3 separate regions of the Homo sapiens genome follow, and regions 1 and 3 are each reported to be linked to region 2. The links are microRNA targets in miRTarBase. Many come from high-throughput screens and were not tested one by one. Region 2 holds a microRNA gene; each other region holds the end of a gene's coding sequence.
The links. The annotated mature microRNA hsa-miR-496 reads UGAGUAUUACAUGGCCAAUCUC and lies in region 2 at 2,200-2,221, opposite strand. An mRNA with a match to its seed (bases 2 to 7 or 8) in the 3' UTR can be bound and repressed. Matches are read on the target gene's strand: a 7mer-m8 pairs with bases 2 to 8, a 7mer-A1 pairs with bases 2 to 7 and ends in A, and an 8mer does both.

Region 1 (3,357 bases), not on the chromosome of region 2:
TCCCTTATTTCAGATTCTTGGCTATTCCAAACTGGTATGCTAGCCCACATGTACACTTTAGGAATTTCTTAAAATTTTTGCCAATATTTTACCTGTTTATATAAAGGCCATCTCTTTCTCTTGGGTTCTTCCTAAGGTTAAACAGTCAGTATGTCCCATCTCTCCTTGTAGGGCTTATCACTCTTTGGGATTTGGTTTGTTTGCCTTGTAATTTCAGTTCTTTGATATGTTCAAGAAAAAAAGCTTTAATTTTATAGATGACCCAGCCTTTTCTCCTTGTTAAAATGGGAATGACAGTCTCTTGAGGTTTTCCACATCTTCTTGAGAAGCAGAGCTCTGACTACCTCTACTAAAGTTAGTTGATTTTCTGTTACTCTCTTGTCAGTATCATTTCCATCACTGCACATATTAAAATTAGTAATTTTTTTACTTTGTCTCCTCCATTAGACTTTAATCCTATAAAAACATATACTACATCGCTTCATTGTTGTAATCTATTATACCTAGCACCATAATTGTACATATAGTACTCAAAACTAATACATACGACAGGTATTCATATTTTCAAAAACCAAAAACATTAACCCAACATACAGAAAATACTGTTAAAAAACATCCATGGAAATATTGATGAACAGAGGGAGAGGAGAGGCAAGAGCCCAAATGCAAACTGGGAAATTGTATTCTGAACCATCAGTTAGGTTTTAATTTATAACCTGCCTGGAGACTGTCTACAGTGTTGACTGAGTTCAAAACATAAAGCACAAATAAGAAAAGTATACCCCAAACCACACTTCTTTAATTAAGCTCTAAGAAAAACTCAAATAAATGAAATAGTAAAACTTTGATCAGTAATTCCTTATTGTTTATTCTCCTCTTACAAAAAGACACTTGGGACAAATAAATACAAAATGGCATATATCATATTTAGCAATGGGCAAATACACATTTTCTTGGTATTCTCCACAAGAATAAACTAATAAAATTTTCAGAGGCATACTCTTCTACCCATCTCTTACCCTCTAAAAAAAAAAAAGGCAATTATTTTAATTCCCTGTAATTTTTAACAATGAATTCTCAAAATAAGTAATCTAGGACTATTCAGGGACCAAGACATCTGAATCAACAAGTTAAAAAAAAAATGTCTGTATACACACACACACACACACACACACACACACACACACGATGTTGCCCAGAAGCTCCAATTAATGAAGAGTCTTAAAAGTTTTTCATTTCATATAGTTTGCATGAATAGAGCCTGTTCTATTCTAATCTCAATGGCAAATAATATAAAACAGAAAGCTGAACACAACATGTGTGTGTGTGTGTGTGTGTGTGTCTACTTTTCTGTCCTAAGAGAAAACATTAAATACAGGTATATTTAATATACAGTGAACATACCATGTGTTTTCTTAAAGCCAACAAAATCCTGATTTCCTATAGCTTGGAGGTGATACAGAAGGCAGAAGACAAATATCAAATTTAGCTAATAAAATATACCCTGCCTATTGGCTCCAGCAATACACTATAGAGTTTGAGCAATGACGGATACCCAAGTGTATATGTTTTGTTAAAATTTATCTTCAGGCTAATACCTGAAGAGGTTGGCTAATACTTTAAATCAAATATTCTTACTTAATGATTTATCCATCAAATGGAAATATGTACAACATATTTCAAATCAGAAAAGGGGTGAATTTTCCCCCTGCCCTTCAAAAAAATATTTTTAAAAATCCACTTGAAATAATTTCTTATTTGATGCTTTTTAATCACTTTCCACTTTATGACAACCATTTTTCTAGAAAGGCAGACAAGAATATAAAATGACTAAGGGGTCACTATGAAAACAATCAAATGGATTTGAAATTTACTTCTGTGTATTTTCTGTACTCCCTAAGTCTTGTGCTAATTAATTACATTTTACTTCATCCCCTGTAATGTTACAAATATGCACCTTAAAATAGAAAAACTTGCTTTTATATTTTAAAACCCCCTCCTCCTTACCTATCTTCCCAAATATTTTAAGCAGAAAATTAATCTTGTTGCTTTAAGGATTGATGTAATATTTGCGAAAAACAACCCCTAATAAACCCTTTAGACTTTTTCGAACCAGCACCAAATTTAAGGGGTTTATTCACTCTGAGGTTGCATGGAAGATGGAAATTAAAAATATCAGTATAAGTAGAACCACATTTAAGAAAAAGCACCTAAAGATGGAGGACAGATAATTCTAACATCCTACACACACACAGTGGTAAACCATATTCATGTTTCTATGTATGTAATAAGTTCTCCAAAAATCTAGGTATTTTTGGTTCTGGTACTAAGTCTAAATTTTTTTTTTTTAAATTTCAAAGGCAATTTAAAACTGGGGGGAAATACATTTTTAAAATTTTGGGGTTGAAGTTCACTACACTATGAGACTAATTTCGTATGTGGCAAGTTGCAACTCTCCAAAGGTGTGAATAAACATCAGAAAGCCCAAAGTGAAGAGCCAGTACATCAACATGCATGATCAGGAATCCTATGAAAGTCACAAGGCATTGGGATTTGGTGATTTACATTAACCTCCTCCTGGTAGAAGATAGTGTTTCATGATGAATGCAGACTGTGCTCACTGCTCATGAGACACACACATCACTACTGCTGAGGTCCCACTTTGTGATAATTTAGAAATCATCCAAATTTAACTCCAGAAAATATAAATCTGGAATATGAATGTGAAGACAGACAGTACAAACAGCAGTTGAGTGAAACCTGCCTGTAACGATCTTTATTTTTTTTTCCTTTAAGGCTACAGAAAATCTGTACATAAACAAGGCAATTAATTCTCATAATAAAAATAACCCCTTACAAATAGCCAAGGTGTCCAGTCAGATTCCATAGTGAGTATATGTTGTATCACATTTTATTCCACTTGTGTACTTTTTTGTGAGTCTGCTGGGTTAGGATCAATTCTTTCTGGAAATATTAGCTTCTCACAAACTGCTTCCTTTATTGGTAAATACTGGGATATTTCATTAGGTTCCGTGAAGAGGGAAGGTGGAACATGCTAGGAAATACATAAATCATATTAGCATATTCAGTTACTGTACTGAAATTTTTTACAAATGTTTTGGTTCAAGCATTCATAAAGCATGGAAATTTTAAAATCAGGTGCAATATATGCATATGTGCTCCTAAAAATAATAGGTATTTCTTGATACGGAATCATTCAACTTTGTTACTGAATGATTTCATCAAAGATCACAGGGTTATATAATCTATAATGTTCCCACAAATGTCCTAAGAATTTAATACATCTTAATCCAACCCTATGTATCTCCTGCTTTTGTAACTTGAAAACACTAGTCT
Region 2 (3,357 bases):
CGCCACCGTGAATTTCCTTCCATGGCTGCCACGTCGGCAGCTTGCTATTTCCCCAGGTCAAATGTCACAGCTGAAATGTTGTCAAGAAAATTGGATTCCTCTGCCAATTTGTAGTCAACTGAACACATTTAGCACTGTGCCGTTTCAGCTGTTTTTAGTTTTATTTTGTGTTGATTATTTTTATCAGTATTATTTAATACAAATGGGATGAGATACTGATAGCCTCTATTTGTTTCATAACCCAGGAGAAAATTGGGAACAATGTTTGGTTGGGGGATAGAAAGAGAAAGATAGAGACAAGGAAAGGTGCAGAAAGAAGCACAGTGCTTGTGAGCTAGACGGGGGTCTGGGGCTGCAGACTCGTCACAGACCCTGCCAAGTGTGAGCTCTTTGTGTATCCGCGAGGTCAAATACCTTCCGAAAAAAAAATGGTGGAGTCAAAATGTCTTTGGGATCAACACAGCCAAAATGGTGATGTAAAGAGACAGGGTCCAGGGTAAGAGCTAAAGCCGACGCGACACCAACGCCATCCTCCCCGGGCCGCGAGCCCCGCCCCCATCATGAATGAAGCTTGTGTTCTCTGAGCGACATCTGTTCTCATCCACCGCAGAGGACCGCAGAGGGCAGACCACCCACGTCTACCCCGTCCATTCTTGCTCACGGGAGGGGTGTAGATGCCCCTGAGCTTGCCACTGGGTCCCGGAAGCCATCCCAAGCAGGATTTGATACTCAAACAAAAGTTGCCTTTGTGTGATTCAACATAAATAAAGCGAATTCACCAAGGGCAACCTCTGCTCAAGGGTCAAACATCAGCACGGGCAAGAACACACCGAGATGCCTCTTCACCAAAGGCGGCATTGCCTGCGGGACCTCCCTGCTGACTCCAGCTGCAGGCTCGCTGGCTTGCTGGCTCGCTCTCTCCCCTCTTGCTCTCTCTCTCTCTCTACCTCCGAGAAGCCCCCCAGGCAGTGGTCAGAACATGGTTGGTCATGGACCAGCTTCTGTAGCCCTGGAGCAGGCAGTGGGGGCGAGGCTATGCACACACACATCACAGGTCAGCCCGAGCTAGAGTCAGCCCCTGGTCACCTACCCTAGAGGGGCTGGAACACCAAGGTCCACCTCCAGAGCCGGTATCTCCTCTGGAAGTCTCTGAAGCAGGATTTCACACAGAGAAGGGGGCTGCCAATGAACCATGTGACCGTGTTCAGTCCAGCCTACAGGGGTTTGAGGGAGGACCCGACCTGAAGGCTGGCGACTCCTCGTCCAGCGCAGCATCCTCAGAGGGTGGGTGGGGCTGCGTCACAGGGACAGCACAGGCTCAGGTGACTGTACTCCATGCACTCCATTCCAGGAGGCCTCAAAGAGAGTTCAACCAAGAAAACAGGTCACGCTGCCTATTCATTCATTCAGCATCACACCTACTGTGCACATCTGGCGACACAGCACCAGGCAAAACAGACAAGGACTCTGCCCTCAGGGAGCTTCCATTCTAGTGGCGAGAGGACAATGAGTGCAGATGACATAACATTCATATAATGACCATCCTCAGAAACAATGCTTATCCTACAGCCACGTGCCAGACGCTGTCTAGACACTTCACAAAGAGCACGTTTCCACTCCGCTGTTAACCCTGCTTTACAGAGGAAGAGACTGAGGCCCAGAGAGCTGATAGGTGAAGGGATTTTCCAAGGGCACACAGCTGGCAACATAAGGTAGTAATAAATGCTATTAACAATTCTCGTCTTGCAGTAGGAATAACCGAGTCGTGCCATGGAAATGTGTCTTTAAACAACATTAATTCTCACTGCTGAGGAAACCCCCTTCACCCCTTGCTTCCCAGAGGTCACCCAGAAGATAAGGTATTTGAGGGCGTAATGTGGATGTCTTCCATTCAGCCAGGAGTTCCTTTCCCTAAAGTGTGCCACACAGCCAAGATGATTTCACACCTAAAAAGGTTGACTAAATGTGGTTTATTCACTGACGAGTCTTCAAGGATGCGACTAGAAGACCACCATGTCAACTAAAACGTCAGCATCATTTCGGGGAATTCCTCCTAATGATGGCCGGGATATGAGCCAAGTGATGTAAGTCACACAGAGAGCACCTGTCATGCGGAGGTGATCCACTTCCTTACCCTGCGCAGGTGCCGGCTGGGCTTTCCCCTCGTGACGTTTCCCAAGAAGAATTGAGTACCGAAAGGAGATTGGCCATGTAATACTCATCATAAATAAAATGAACACACCATGGACAACCTCCATTCGAGTACCTGACTTGGGTGCTCGCTTCCAGCGCGTCCCAGCAGCAGGCCTGAGGACGGACGGGATACTGAGAGTCAGGAAGGTGGCAACACACCACCCACGAAATAAGCTCTGCGGTCCGGGCCGCACTCCATCCCTTACTTGCAATTAGCACCTCTTGCAGGAAGCCATTCAGGGAGGGAAGTGCCACAGCAGAGAGGTCTGCAGAGCACCATCTGTGATACATGAAGAGAGGGCAGCAGGGAAGACAGCAAGACGGTGTCTTGTCAAACATGCAGTGAGCCGATGAGGGAACTGCCGCCTCTTTCGAGGAAACTGCCATGGTAAGCAAGCAGGACGCCTGCAGGTGCACGACCCACCAAGAAGAGTGTGCACACTGTCAGCTTCGCCGTGCGTTCAGGCATTCAGACACCAGTTCTAGTTCCTAAACTCGGCACCACCCGAGGGTGCTTTAAGGCTAGATTTAATGCTTTCAAAAGAGTCCACTATGTAGGATTGGTCAAAAAATAAATCGAATGCATCATGGAAGACCTCTCCACCAGTACCACAGAGTAGCTCTGATAGGAAAAGCTCCACTTCTTCCCCAAAGGTGGCACCATCTCTAGAAACCTCCCCAAGGACGGGGCACACACAGGGTTAGGGCCAGGGCACACTGCTGGGTCGGCTATGGTCAATGGTCCCCTTCCTTACCCTGGAGAGGAGCTGACACCCTGAAGTAAGACTCCGCTCCAGGAAGCCCTCCAAGGCGGGATTTGGTACTGAAAAATAGGTCAACCGTGTATGATTCGTCACAAATAAAGCGAAGGCAACACGGATAACCTATCTTCAAGTACCACACGCTAGCGCAGACCCAATGTCAATGCCTGTTCTCCAAAGTTGGCCTCCTCCAGGAAGTCCCCCTAGGAGACAGTGAACATTGACGGTTAGCAGACGGACTGCAAGAGGGTTGAGAAGAAAGCACACGCCCTGTATTCAACCATTCCATCCCGGACCCTGCAGCCATCCAGACCTCAATGCCTTTGCCAAGGTGGGTGCATGTCTAAAGGAGCACTGCCAGGGAACCTGATGGTGGAGAGGCCAAGTGCACAGAAACTCAGCA
Region 3 (3,000 bases), not on the chromosome of region 2:
TATAAGGAGATATTTTAATCAAGAGCACAAACAAGAATATACAAAATGAGAACTGAAACAGAATCTTGGATAGCATCCAGGGCTTCATGCTGATTCCATGACATGGCAGAGTATTATTGTGGTGATCCTTAATTTAAAGGGGCAACTGCTGTCCCTAAAGTGACACTTTGATAAGGAAATAGTAACAAGTCTATCCATATACATGATTAAAGATTTCTATCATTTACATTTCATAGCTGTGAGCTGACCATTTTCATGAAAATATTATGTAAATTATGATCATAACAAGTGTACCCAGAATCAGAACTGCTAATTAATTCCCCTTTCCTGTGGATGCAGCTGATGTATTGTCACACCACTAATTTTCAGAAAATTATACTAGCAATATAAGGAAATGCCTTTATGATAAACTATCAACAGCTTTCTTATATTAACATAAATCAGAAATCTCCAACTGAAGGCTGAGATGGGAAGATCACTTGAGGCTAGGAGACCAGACTGGGCAACATAGCGAGACCTCATCTCTAAAAAATAAATTAGCTGGTTGTGGTGGCACGTATCTGAAGTTCCAACTACTTGGGAGGCTGAGGCCAGAGATCACTTGAACCCAGGAGTTTCAGGCTGCAGTGAGCTATGATCACATCACTGCACTGCAGCCTGGGCAACAGAGTTAGAACCTGTCTCCATGGAAAAATGATAAAAACATCACTCCCAGAAAGAATATAAGTTTCAAGTAAGACCATTAAAAATATTTCAGATCAAGTATTGGGAAATAATTCTGTTTATGCTGAATAACTAACAATATTGATACCATATGGTTTGATCCTTGATATCCGTAAGTTATCAAGGATGGTGTCAAGGATTGATAACATAAGGTTCAATCCTTACATCTGAACAGACTCAATTCACCTGTGGACCCGTATTAATATTACACTAAAAAACCAACCCAAAACGGTCTATTTAGTGCTTTGGCAGGATTTGCTTTAATATGAAAGAATAAATCAGTATCTTCCAAGCAAAGCCAAACAAACAAAAGATCTTGAATAAAAATCTAAAAATCCATCAACTCAACTCTAAGAAAATAAATGCCTTATTGTATTATTGCACTACATTTTAGGTTATCACCAATTTTTGATAGTATGGGATTCATGTAAAAGGCATTTGAGATACTGTGGAAAGTAACGTATGCCTAAACAATGCACGCACTGTGTGTATGTGTTTATGAAATACACACTTTGGATCACTGGATAAATCACGAGTCCTTTTTAAGTTTCAATACTCTCTAATGTAAAATGGGGAAAATACCCAGAAAAGTTATCTATAGGGTTAATTGGTAGATGAGTTAGTCATTAAATTAACATTAAACTTACTAAGAGTTAGTCTAAATTGGTAGATGAGTTTACATTAAAGCACTTTGTAAAGAAAATGGTATAAATGCAAATTAATGTTAAGCACTCTTATTCATTCATATTTTAATATAAAAGCACACCAAACCCACCAATTCAGAAAGGAAAAAAAGCTAACCTCTTCTGATTCTTTTATAGCTTAAAAATGGTTTAAAATGACTTTTGCCATTCAACTCGTATCAGTTCAAGAAGCTCTGGAATAAGTAACCACTGAAGGTAAGACATCTTTTAAATAATAAAAGCCAAACCATACTATTCTTAACACCTCTCAGTTTCTCTAAAGCCAGTATGACAATCTTAAAAAAGGGAAATAATTACTCCTTTTTATCCCTTAAAATTTAAAATGTAGTTTTTACCATGTTTTCAGTAAGATTCTCATTCTGTACCAGAAAGGCAGTTCCTTAAAGACCCAAGTTTTAAATATTTAACTTTTTCTGTCCATAAAATAGGTATTATGTTTACATATTATCAGTAACACAGAGTATCTTGGTGTAGAACATTTATTTATTTTTCCCACAAATCACTGAAAGTTTAGGTCAGTGGGAAATAATTTTAATCAAATAATTGTACATATTCTTCCCACATATCCTGCCTTGTATTAGGAAATGACATTGTGATCCATTTCATTACAAGTAAAATATTACAAAATATTTACAGGAAAATATTAAAAATAACTCAAACACAAAAGGCAAGATGAAATAAACTGTTTTTTTTTCTCCAGAAATCTCTACTCCAGTGCCCACAGCACACAAGAGTCAAAACAAATAAGCAACTAAGATCCCCCGATCACAAATTTCCAAAGAACTGGAGGAGGGGAAGAAACAGGGTGAAAATGGTGGTATGAAAGGGAATGGATGTTAGCAGCACTGCTTCAATAACTGATCTATTCTGGATGAAATACCCTTTTTTATGTGCAGTAAATTCTGAACAAGGCTAAATTTTAGGATATTCCTTGAACTGAAATTAGAAAATACCCTGACAATGGAAGCAGCTCTTTCATCTAAGTTTAATAAGAGCCTCTTTCTCCATGGGCCACTGTTGTGAACAGAAGCCTTTTCTGGCATCAAAAGCTGTCACAGTAGCCCTTCCATCTCTTTCATGAAAGCCTCATAGACATCATCCTTAGTTTGTACTGAGACAGGAACAGAAGGACCAGATTTGGGTGCTGCTTTGGCAAGAGGCACAGCAGAATCATCCTCTGACTTTCTTTGGGGAGCAGCAGTAGCCCCTTTATTCTCCCGACGTACTCTCAGTGCAGTGGGCACAAATCGAGTAATCTCTGCCTTGGGATTAGTGATCTGTGGCTTGGCACTGATGGTTGCTGTGGCTTTCTTCTCAATGGTGGCTGCACTTGTATCATCCGCCTTGGGTCGCTGAATCAAGTTGGGTGGGGCACTTAAAACCCCAGGGTTTGGCAAGGGAGCTGGTGGGAACAGCCCAGGGGGGGCAGGTCCAAGGGGAGGCACCAAAGGTGGGCGCATCATGCCAGGACGAGGTGGAGGAATACCTAAATGAATAAAATAGGCAAGATGAATACTGTAAGAACTAATAAAATTTAACTACTATTAAGGACATTTAAATATTGGTTGCCAAT

Region 1: miRTarBase lists TIPRL as a target of hsa-miR-496. Seed matches in the 3' UTR shown: 7mer-A1 at 2,890-2,896.
Region 3: the mRNA of WBP11 is a reported target of hsa-miR-496. Seed matches in the 3' UTR shown: 7mer-m8 at 109-115.

The regions. Positions count from the first base shown.
Region 1 is chr1:168,199,601-168,202,957 of GRCh38, reverse strand. It overlaps TIPRL (TOR signaling pathway regulator), which reads right to left. Exons shown (of 7, transcript NM_152902.5): 7 at 849-3,055. The coding sequence ends at 2,912. Among named protein-coding and RNA genes, the nearest start is that of TIPRL, 22 kb to the right of the region's middle.
Region 2 is chr14:101,059,492-101,062,848 of GRCh38, reverse strand. MIR496 (microRNA 496) reads right to left here and starts at 2,276; the gene lies at 2,175-2,276. MIR154 (microRNA 154) reads right to left here and starts at 3,094; the gene lies at 3,011-3,094. MIR377 (microRNA 377) reads right to left here and starts at 799; the gene lies at 731-799.
Region 3 is chr12:14,784,586-14,787,585 of GRCh38, forward strand. It overlaps WBP11 (WW domain binding protein 11), which reads right to left. Exons shown (of 12, transcript NM_016312.3): 12 at 1-2,913. The coding sequence ends at 2,480. Among named protein-coding and RNA genes, the nearest start is that of H2AJ, 12 kb to the left of the region's middle.